Regions from separate parts of the Homo sapiens genome. Here region 2 is linked to region 1. The links come from fine-mapping of genetic effects on gene expression. A gene starts in region 1. The other region holds a variant in brackets. All regions are shown on one strand. Distances are from middle to middle. Region 1 holds the start of ACOXL-AS1 (ACOXL antisense RNA 1). Region 2 overlaps BCL2L11 (BCL2 like 11).

Region 1 (5,525 bases):
AGAATAGGTGCAGGTTAACTACTTGATTGTGCCCATTTTCACCAGTCACGATTTGCCAGTCCATGTGCTGCTCTTTTGAAGGCACTTGAATTGTGTTTGACTTAAGGTGGTGATCCAAAGCAGCAGGGAGGGGCCTGTTGACCAGTGTGGAAGGGCACTCCCAATTTACTGAAGGAGAATCTGCAGAACAGAGTTGAAGCCTTGTCCTTCTGCAGGTAAAGGTCCTTCTAGGTCATCAAGCTGGACTTTTCACATGGTAGCTGGCTCTGAAGCCGATATCCTTGGCACCTTCCTCCGGTGGCAACATCATAGAGTACTCCTGGGCACCATTACTGCCCTGGTCCTCTCAGAGAATCTGAGCCAGTGTGGCTGGGCAGATCCATGTTCTCCACACTAGGCACACACAGAATACAGATTCTGACTTAGGAAGAACGTCAAGGGTCACACGTCTGCCACAGTGGTGGAGGCATTTGTCAGTGCAGCACCACATATCCTCCAGCAACTGGAAGCAGTGAGGCACTGGGGGAAAAGATGAAGGCAAAAGGGTAGACAAGGCTTTAGAAAAAAAAAGCCCTGGATTAAAACTCTAGTTGCATCAGTTACAAGTTATGTGACTTAAATTCTTTAAGCCTTGGTTTTCTCATCTGTAAAATGGGTTGATACCTGATAGAGTTGTTATGAGTACTGAATAAGACAGTGAACCTAAAGCCCTCCTCTGTAATCTGGCACACAGTAGTTGTCCAGGAAATGTCAGCATGGGGCAGAACACCGAAGACCTTGGTTACATATGTAAAGTGCCATATGTTGCCACATAGCATTGTTATAAAGATGCTGGAGATAGAGCAGACTAAGTCAAAGACAGCTAAGTAGCTCCCTTCTGTACTTCATGCCTTTACCTGCCTGGCCCTCCGGGATGGAATGTGGAAAGCATAGATACTGCACAGCAGAGATGGATCCTTGGCAAAGGCTGGAGTAACAAGCTATGAATTGTTGATTGGGGACTAGGGTTGCACGAGACAAGCATGGAATAAAGGTGGCCAGAGGCACCTGCCAGAATGCCAGTTATGTGTCACAGCAGAAGCAAAGGTGATAAATGACAGCCACAAGTAGCACAGAACCTCATTTTACCAACCACTTTAATCTTATTCCCTCATCACATCTTTTAGATTAAAAGATGTTTGTTCATTAATTAAGGTTCCCCTTCCTGTAAAGTTTCTAGCTCAAAATCTAGTTAACCTAAAATGAAGTCAACTGAAAAATAATGGACAGGAAATTACATTAATGGCTCACCAATATCTAACAATCCCTTAGAAAGTAAGAGTTGGCTGCATAGAGATTCTTTTTGGAAAGGAGGTGGAATTGATTCCTTATAGCAAGTAAGTTTATTTGTTGTTTTGCTTAGTCAGGTTAAAAATTTCTATTTCTGTGCATTAACCGGTGATAATGACTGATACTTATTCTGTGGGCAGGCAGCCTGGACAGTTCTTTGGCTAGTCTTACCTGGGATCACTCCTGTGGCTGCAGTCATCTGAGTTCAACAGGACTAGGATGTCCAAGATGGCCTCTCTCTCATATCTGGCAGTGGGTGCTGGCTGTTGGCCAAGGCACCTTGGTCCATCTCTACGTGGCCTTTTGTCCTCCAGCAGGCTAGACTGGGCTTCTGCACAGCAGGTATTCTCACGGTTATAGGAGAGTGATAATGGGGGATTCAAAGCTTCTTAAGGCCTAAACTCTGGAAATCACACAGTGACATGTTCCCCATATTCTACTGGCAAAGCAAGTCATAACTCAGCCCAGATTAAAGGGATGGAGAAAAAGACTCTACCAAGGTAGCCAGACGAAAGGGGCTAATGAAGGGACATTTCAAGTTTGGGTAAGGGATTTTTCACAAAAAACAGCATGTGGTCATCTTATGCTGAGAACAGGGGTGAGACATATGGGAAGAGGCAGGAAAACCTTCTGCATGGAGTCCTAGGAATAGCTGGGGTGTCCCTCCAAGTGTACTGGGCACTTCCCACCCTGAACATCTATTATAGGACTAACACCATGCCATGCTGGGAAAATATGGTTTGTTCAGAGGACTGCAAAGCTTAGTCACTGCCCATCCTTGGCCATCCTACTCTCCCAACTGAAATAAGGAAACTGTAGGGAGAGTCAAAAAGAGCAGAAAAATAAATTGAGTACTGCAACTAGATGGAGGTGGGAAGCCAAACTGATGTTACAATTTTTCCCTCACTCCCAAATATACATATTAATATAGTCAAACACAGTGTCATCCCTTGAGGGCTGAGTGCTTCTGCTTTCTTTAAAGCAGATATTCTCAAATTCCACTCACTGGCTATTTCCAGTGGACTGTACATTCTTATTGCTTGTAGAGCAATAGTGCCCATGTTTAGGTTTGACCTTAAAAAATGTTTTTGCAAGAACCTATAACTTGTTCATACTTTTTTATTTTTAAAGTATACCTATTCATTTGTCTTTTTCAAAAGCTGGTGAATTTTCTTTGTAAAGATATGGGTAAGCTTGAAGTACTTTGTCCAGCATAAATGGGTCATAAACTGGCAGGGCAGAGGACCCCTACACTATGTGCAATTTTTATGCTTATAGTATGGAAGCATGTTTGGTAACAAAACTAAACTTTAATAATACACTGCTTAGCCCCATATAAAAATACCCCCTGGTAATAAAAATACTGTAACTGTGTAATAATCAATGCTATATTATCTTCTCAAGTTTATTTTGTATTAAAGAGATCATATATTTTTAAAAATTTTTAAAACGCCTCAACAGCTTCACGATGTGAGACCTGTTCCTGTAGTGTGTACCATTAAACCTCTAAAGTCCAGAATTGTACCTAACACTGGGTAGGAATCCAGCATACCATTTGTGAGTGAAAGGATGGTAATTATTATTATCATCTTGACAGCCAGGAACAGAGGTGGGTGGGTACCTGGAATCAGAGTCAAACAATAACTAAGAGTCAAACAATAACTAACAGGAATGATGCCGGATCCGTCCATTGAGACAATAATCATTCTGAGGTTTCTGTTGCAGTCTAGGAAAAATGGAGAAGGCTAGAAGGAGTATTTTAAACTGCTCCAGAACTTTAGATTTAGAAAGAATCTTGGCAGTCAACTCCTCTTCACAGCCAGTTCATTTTTCTTCTCTAGGGTGCCATTGGAGGGCACACTCCCTGAACACTTATGAGTGAAGAAACCCTCCTTTTCACCAGCCATTGGGTTCCTTTTCAAGTTTATTTTTTTAAAATTTTCTTTATATTGAAATCTGCCTCATTTAATTCCTACCTCTGGCCCTACGTTCTGTTTTTGGCACCAGATAGATAAAACCCATACTCTATTTTACACTCATTCAAATCATTGTATTTCCCCCACCGGTGAATATATTACCAAAGTTGGTTGAGTTTCATAATGCAAACCCAAAGGGAAAATTATCTTGAATAATCATATGACAATATGTGGAAAGTTTAGGGGCTGTGTACGCCACCTCATGGTTTTGAACTGTGTGGTTAAAGACGTTGAGAGTTGACAGATTAGTCAGGGATTTTTCAAGAGTATTAATTACAAACTTTGAAATCTTGGTCAGTGAAAGTTCATTTTAGTGCATCTTGCAAATACGATCAAAGGTCTTTTCAGTACTGATTTGATGATGCTTAACCACAGTGTGTGAAGAATGAAGTTTTTCATTAGAAATTACTGGTGTAATAGAGCACATTTTCAGGGAAGATGTATTGTTGGACTATTACAATTCATGCTCTTCCCCCACCATATCCCTACCCTCTATATTCCCCATCCCCTATTTCCTCCACCTTCCTCCTTGGGACCTCACTGAAAACCTGAAATGCTCTGAAAACCTGAAATGGCGTTTTGGACTGCTGCAAGGGAAACTGTGATCTTAACAACATCAGTGCGGCTCAGACATGACCACCATGTGAGGGCAAAGGTGGGGCTGGTGTAAGTGATGTTGTTAAACCTGTAAAAATAAACCATGAAAACCTGGGGATTTACTGTGATTTGGGGAGTGAAACAAATTTACCACTGGCCGAAAACTTGAAAAATGGAGTACAATGTGTAGATCAGAAGAAAAGAAAGCCGTCCCTCTGCCCTTGTGTAGTTTTAGAAAAACAATCTTATTAGTTTGGTAGCTTTTTTTCCTGAAAATAAAAAAAAAAATACATTGGCACCTAAGCCATGGAAAATGAAATAAAAATACACCAGTGCAGCTTCCAAAACACTGACTTGCATCTCCCTCTCCTATCCGCCGGGAATGTCTTATCCCTGCCTTCCAGTGGCTGCCAGAACCAAGGGCATCCGCGGCGTTCCTTGGCATTGGCGTTAACAGCAGATGGATTTTCCGCAGCGGCCAGGCGGAAGATGCCTAGCATTGGTCCGCCGTCTCACTGTACTGAATTTCAAGAATCATGGCCTACTGCCAGCCAGGTCAGGACCGAAGGCGCTAGTCTGGGGAGACTGGAGCAGGTCTCTAGTGGTTCACCTGTTCGGAGGCTCTTCCTGTTCAGTTCCCTCTGCGCGCCAGAGGGTGGCACCCCAGGCACTCCAGAGGTGGAGAGGAGGGGACGACAGGGGAGGCAAAGAGAGAGGAGCGGAGGGAAGGACCAGGGAGGAAGGACCAAGGAGGGAGCTTTAATAAATTCTCAGACCTTGGTCTCGAGTTCCCGGCTAATTTGGGGGCAAAGCCGACCGACCCCACGTCCACGCCCACCCCCTTACGGGAAAAGCCGGGGTTTCCACTGGGCTAGGTGTCAGAGTTGGGAATGTCTAAAACAAAAAAGGCTTCCGAGGGTTATTCATGGCCAACAGTTTCCACAGGAGAATCCAAAGGGAAACTAGTTTCCGGGGCCGCTGTGTGTGCGGGTGCTTGGTGGGCTGAAAGCTGCTGTCACTAGATGGCTGTAAGTGTGCCAACATCTGACCTGTCCCATTGTGTTGTGTTTTGCAGTTGCTGGATTTGTGCGACTCGGTGAAGGATGATGCCCGGAGGGTGATCTCGACCTTTAACATTCCACACACCTACCTCCACGCACCAATCGCCGGAATCTCCAACCCGCGGGCCGCGTGGGCTTTCTACCCTGCACCGCTGCAGCCGCGGCCACGGGAAGAGGCGCGCTCCCGGCGGCCCAAGCTGGGAGCCAAGCTCTAACGGGTGTGGCGGGAAGTGTGGTGGCCCGCCAGCAGCTGCCACGACGCTCGCTCCACCGACGCCCAGAGCTGTGGCCGAGGCCGGGGGCTGGCACCCGCTGGGCCGCCACTCTCGGGGATTTTGGTGGCAAAGCGGAGGTCCCGCCGAGGCTGGCGAGGTGCGCGGCTGGCTGCTAGGAAAGAGATCCAGACGGTCGCCTGGTGCGCTGGATCCCTGTGCCCTTTCCCTGAAACCCAGCCTGGCCTGACTGCAACCTCTCCCAACTTCAGTGCCGGATCCCCTAGACAATCAGGGTGGGCTCCCCGCTGCGAGCGCGCCCCACAGCCGGGTGCCGCCAAAGGTCTCCT
Region 2 (5,000 bases), 45 kb after region 1:
AGCTCCACATCATGCTCAACTGTGTGCTGGGCCTTTTTCTCTCTGACTTCTGTGTCACTTAGTTGCCAGTTAAAATGCTGTTTAGACTGCTGGGTTATGAACGAGTCGTGGAGTGGTAGTTCTAACAGAATCAGGGGGGTGACTCCTAGTTCCATGTCCCACCCTGCCACCTCAGTGTCCCTAAAGATGCCGTGACAGCCCCTGGGTATTCTCAGGCTCCTGGATGTCCATCCCAGGCCCTCTCTTCTGCAGCCTGTGGGGATCAGACACCAACCAGAGAGACTGCTTCCTCAGTTGCCTGAGCCTGGAGCAGAGATTCCCTCTGTCCTTCCTGGTCTCACAGTCCAAAATTCAGCCTCCTATTATATATAATGTATAATAATTTATAGTATATATATAAACACTTAAATATATATAAAAAATAAGTTTCAGGACATCCTATACATTTACTGTTGAAATTCTGTAAGAAACAAGTTTTTGAGTAAGTTAAATTCCTCTGCATCTCAGAGTTCTATAGGTATACCTTGTTTTTGAATGCCTCTTAGAATTAGGAATTGAGCTTGCTTTGATATGACAATGAAATTGTCGTTTTTCCCTCGTTGCTCTGACTGCCAGGAAACTCTTAACTAAACTGTGGCTCTCTTACAGCACATCTCACCCCTGGTTCCCAGGATAACTCCTTGATGTCATGTCTGATCTCAACCTTTTTTTTTAAATTGTGTTACACACATTTGCGCTTTCTTAATTTAAGTCCCCTTTGAGCCATGCTATGTCTAGGTCTGTGTTGTACTTACCGAGTCCTTGGGCCCAGTGGGTGTCAGCCCTGCCTTTGGAGCATGGATGAGTGGGCTGTATTCTGAGCTGCATTGTAGGAATCACTTAGTGATTCTCAATTCGCACTCCAGAACCTCTGTGGCCTCAGCTCAGCCTGAAACAAGGCCCCTTTCAGGTCTGAGGAGCAACGGGCCCTTCCCAGCAGAGGCACAGGCACAGGCACAGGGTGTGCGAGGAGGGAAGGTGCTGGCCTGAAAGCCCTCGTTTAACTTCTTTCCTGCTTCTGGCATTCCATCTTCATGTGGGCCAAGAGTACCCATCCTGTCCTGCCACTGTCTTCAGCTGCACTTTGAGTCACTTGCTTGACCTCTGTAGTCACTGGCTGCAAAACAGCATAGGGAATGCTACCCTGGCACTCAGGGTTGTTGTGGGGACTGAAAAGCATGGGCTAGGTTATTTCATTTAGTGGTGGCCATGGCAATTCTTCCATCCCCAAGCTTGGGCACACAAAGTCCAAAGGCCTGGAGTGCCCTAGGCAGCTTTTCAAAGGTTCGACTCCTCTCACTGTTGGAGAGTGAAGCTGAATCCAAAGCTGCATTCTATAGTTGTCTGCTGTTCAACCTGACCAGTTCCCTGGGGCCAGGGCCTCTATTGTTTTCCAAGCATCTGCTTCCCTGGACTGAGCAAGAGAGTGGTGTTCTGTGATTATTTTGGCATTAGAATGTCATTAAATTCCCTGACACTTAATTGGTCGTCCCAAGTGTAAATTGAAGATGCTTCTGCCCTGCACTTAATGTTCCTCGCTGCAGTGGCAGCTCCAGCCCCTGGCAAGGCAGCAGGAACCCCACGCTAGGGCATTCCTGTGGTACAGCTCCTCCCAGGTTGCCACCCAGATGAGCTTGTGCCATCTGGTGTCATGGGGACATGTGAAGAACTATTTAGGAATTCCCTGTTGAATGCTCGACACCGTCTCAAAGGGCATTGTTCATATCTTCAGAGAAAGACTGCTTAAGTCTATGCTGAGGAACTTGTAGACACATAATCCTATGCCTTTACACTTAGAGGGCACAGTCTGTGGGGGAGCAATCCTGCAACTTGGCATAATCTTTCCTTCTGGTTTATGATAAATACTTATCCACTACTGAGATTATCTTTACTGAACTGCTGGCCCCTTCTGCCTGTTGGCCTTGCTGCCTCTGCCCAGCTTCTCTCTCCACCTGCACTGCCCATTCTCCTCTTGTCCTTCCAAGAAATTCTCCTCTTCCTTTGGGGCTTGATGTGGGGATTCACCCTGGTGCCTTCCTGCCCTGGCTCCCCCACTTCCTCTCTGGCCAGTGGTTTTTTTCCCTCTCATTTTATTTGCCTCTGTATTGTCCTTACTTTATTATCTTGTTTACTGTTTTGTGCTGGCGACACAGCTATTACCATCAGACCTAGTGGGTACACAGACACGTGCCTTGAAGTCAGGCCCCCCACCTGATGCTGGTCAGCAACAGGGCCACTGGAGCCCCTTACCCTGAGAGGGGCAGGGGCTGTCAGGAACTGGTTCCTGGAGGGACACACAAGGTTGTGAATGTTGAAGGAGTCATCTTCTGGACACATGGGATGGCCACAAAAGGCAGTTACCTCCAGGTAACCCAGTCCTCATATAGCTCTTGATTTAGGCTATGGAGATTACAGTACCCAACTGGGTGGGGCCCTCCTCTTTGTGCACTTGTGATTGTGTGTATGTGTGTCTGCGTAGAGAAAGTGAGAGAGGAGAGAACTGTAGTATATGGTCACTTCAGTTGTAACTTACTAGCAAATTTGGTCTTTAAAAATAATCTCCTTCACCCAAATGAGTTGTTATACCTTTCTAAAGTATTTTTGCAATTTAGACTAAAACAGAGTTACCCAACTCTGTAAGAAGGATTGTTTTCACTTAAAGAGTGACAGACTGAGAGCATCAGTGAAAGTGTGTATTAGTCAGCTAGGGCTGCTGTGCAGAGTTCCAGAGACTGGGTGGCTCACACAACAGGAATTTATTTTTCTTAGTTCTGGAGGC[T/C]GGAAGTCTGTGATCATGGTGCAGACTTAGCCTCCAGACCTGTAGATGCTGTCATCCCCTGTGTCTTCACGTGGTCTCCCTCCGTGGGTTTCTGTGTCCTGATTGTCTCTTACCAGAACACCGTGGATTAGAGCCCACCCCACAGTGACCTCATTTTAACTTAATCACCTTATTGATGACCCTGTCTCCACTTACAGTCACAGCCTGAGGTCCGGGGGGTTAGGACTGCAACAGATGAATTGAGGGGACACAGTGTACAGTTCAGCCCATAAAGAGGAAGATACCCAGAAGTTTCAGGAGGGAGTGGAGCATCTTCCCTGATTGTATTTATTTTAATAGTTTTTTAAAAAACGCTTGTAATCAGGAAAGACAGTCTGTCTTTTTTATATTACCCAGTTTGGGAGTGGCAGAACTTAAATGCACTTTTGATTCACAGATGCCTCTTCCACCTGATTAAGAACCACTGTAGCAGACGCAGACTTATTGGACACTAGGCGGGAGGCCAGCTCTGCAGACAGCAGGTCTCAGGAAGACGGTCAAGGCATGGCTGCTGATGATCCGCTTATGGGTGTGTTTATTGTCTTAGCCCATGTTAGATGCGAGGAACCACTCACACTGCAAATGACAGCTCCTGGCTCAGTCTTAGTGTCATACTTGCCTTTAACTGGCAACTCCCCTGCAATACAGGGATTGTCATCTTTAGTCCTGACTTTCCAATTCCATCTTGGATGTGCTACCCTGGCCAGAAGCCACTGGGTGTGCCCTTACTTTGACCTTTCACCAGTAAATTCCATCTTAGGGGGCTTTCTCTAATTGCTTCAGACTCCCTCCTGACCCTTTATACCACCCCAAAACCAAAGGCCCTGGTTTAGGAGCTGAATTGTAGCAGCCGTTCCTCAGTATCTAGATCGCAGGGAGATTTCACTGGAGCTGGCTGAAGCTGTTGGCGCTTTGAGCAGCGTTGAGCCATCAGTCCTAGTTCTGCGTCTTTGCCCCACTGCAGCTTTTGGCCACTTGCCCCAGTTTAGTGTCACCAGGCCCCGACTATAAGCCACAGTAATTTTTATGGCTGCAGGTATTAGAGGGCAGCCAGTCTACAGAGGTAGGGGCTGCCCATCCTCCAGCTGTCTTTTGCAATACGGGCATACACTTCGAGCCAACAGCAGCTCCAGCCGGCCGTGCCAGCTGTCAAATGCTTTCTGGGCTGGCACGGCTCTTTGAATCCGTGGTAATGGCTTCCTCTGTTGAATGTCGTCCAAAAGCAATTGCTTGTCAGCTTAAAAGCGTGTGCCATGTTGTCATGCCCGCCGTCTGAGAGGGCAGGCATCCCCGCACACTTGCAGACTGGGATGCTGTAGCATCTTCTCATGAGTCAGGGATTGGGTGTAACTTTTGCCAAAATTTCCTGCATTTTCCCCACCCTCTCCAACATGTCTTTGAATACCCCATATCCTTTACATTTGAGATGAAAGTGGAACTCTAAAAACCTTGGAAAGATTCTCTTGTGAGGTGACTTCTACTTAAGCTTGGTCACAGCCTCCTGCTGTCCTCAAAGAGTGGGCAGGAGATTTCTTCCCTTGGACGCTGCCAGTGCTGGAATATGAAACTTACCAAGTGTCAGCAGTTGGGGTCTGTCCTTCACGTTGACCCAGCCCCCTCATTGGTGTCCTGATGATTGTGGACACCCAGTCAGCCCCATTTTCTGGCCACACCAAGCATGGCAATGACACCAGGTTGGCACAAAACAACTCTGCCTGGATTGATTACTTAGCCCATCATAGCGTACACTTTCTTCATTTTAGTAAGTTGTGGTTTTATTTTGAATAAGTCTCTTTCAACCTATTAATATTAGTCTACACTAAAATTAACCTTCCCCTAAATTATTCTCACACAGAGGCAGCAAAGTAATTTTGAAAGTTAAATCAAAACAAAGCAATCTTGTGTGTAAAACAGATAAAAATCACAGACTGTGGTTACAGAGTGCCTCTACAGGAATCGCTTACATAAAGCTGATTTCCTCCAATCTTGTTATGGAAGGAAAAGGGGAAATGCCCTGGCCTTATCACAATCCCATTCTGTCAAACAAGCGCGGCAGAGCTTGTGTAAACAGTGGAGCTGCAGCTGCGGCTGGTGTCTGTGGGGGCCATTCGGGGTCTGAGGGGACAGTTGTCTCAGCCTGATG

What was found.
Region 2: its variant is fine-mapped to the expression of ACOXL-AS1 in atrial appendage (GTEx, PIP above 0.99).

Annotation. Positions count from the first base shown.
Region 1 is chr2:111,112,639-111,118,163 of GRCh38, forward strand. It overlaps ACOXL-AS1 (ACOXL antisense RNA 1), which reads right to left and starts at 2,950. Exons shown (of 4, transcript NR_122074.1): 1 at 2,882-2,950; 2 at 1,501-1,660. ACOXL (acyl-CoA oxidase like) reads left to right here. Exons shown (of 18, transcript NM_001142807.4): 18 at 4,978-5,525. The coding sequence ends at 5,178.
Region 2 is chr2:111,158,165-111,163,164 of GRCh38, forward strand. The region is part of intron 3 of BCL2L11 (BCL2 like 11); the gene reads left to right. Among named protein-coding and RNA genes, the nearest start is that of BCL2L11, 40 kb to the left of the region's middle. The variant T/C (reference allele first, on the strand shown) is at 2,819.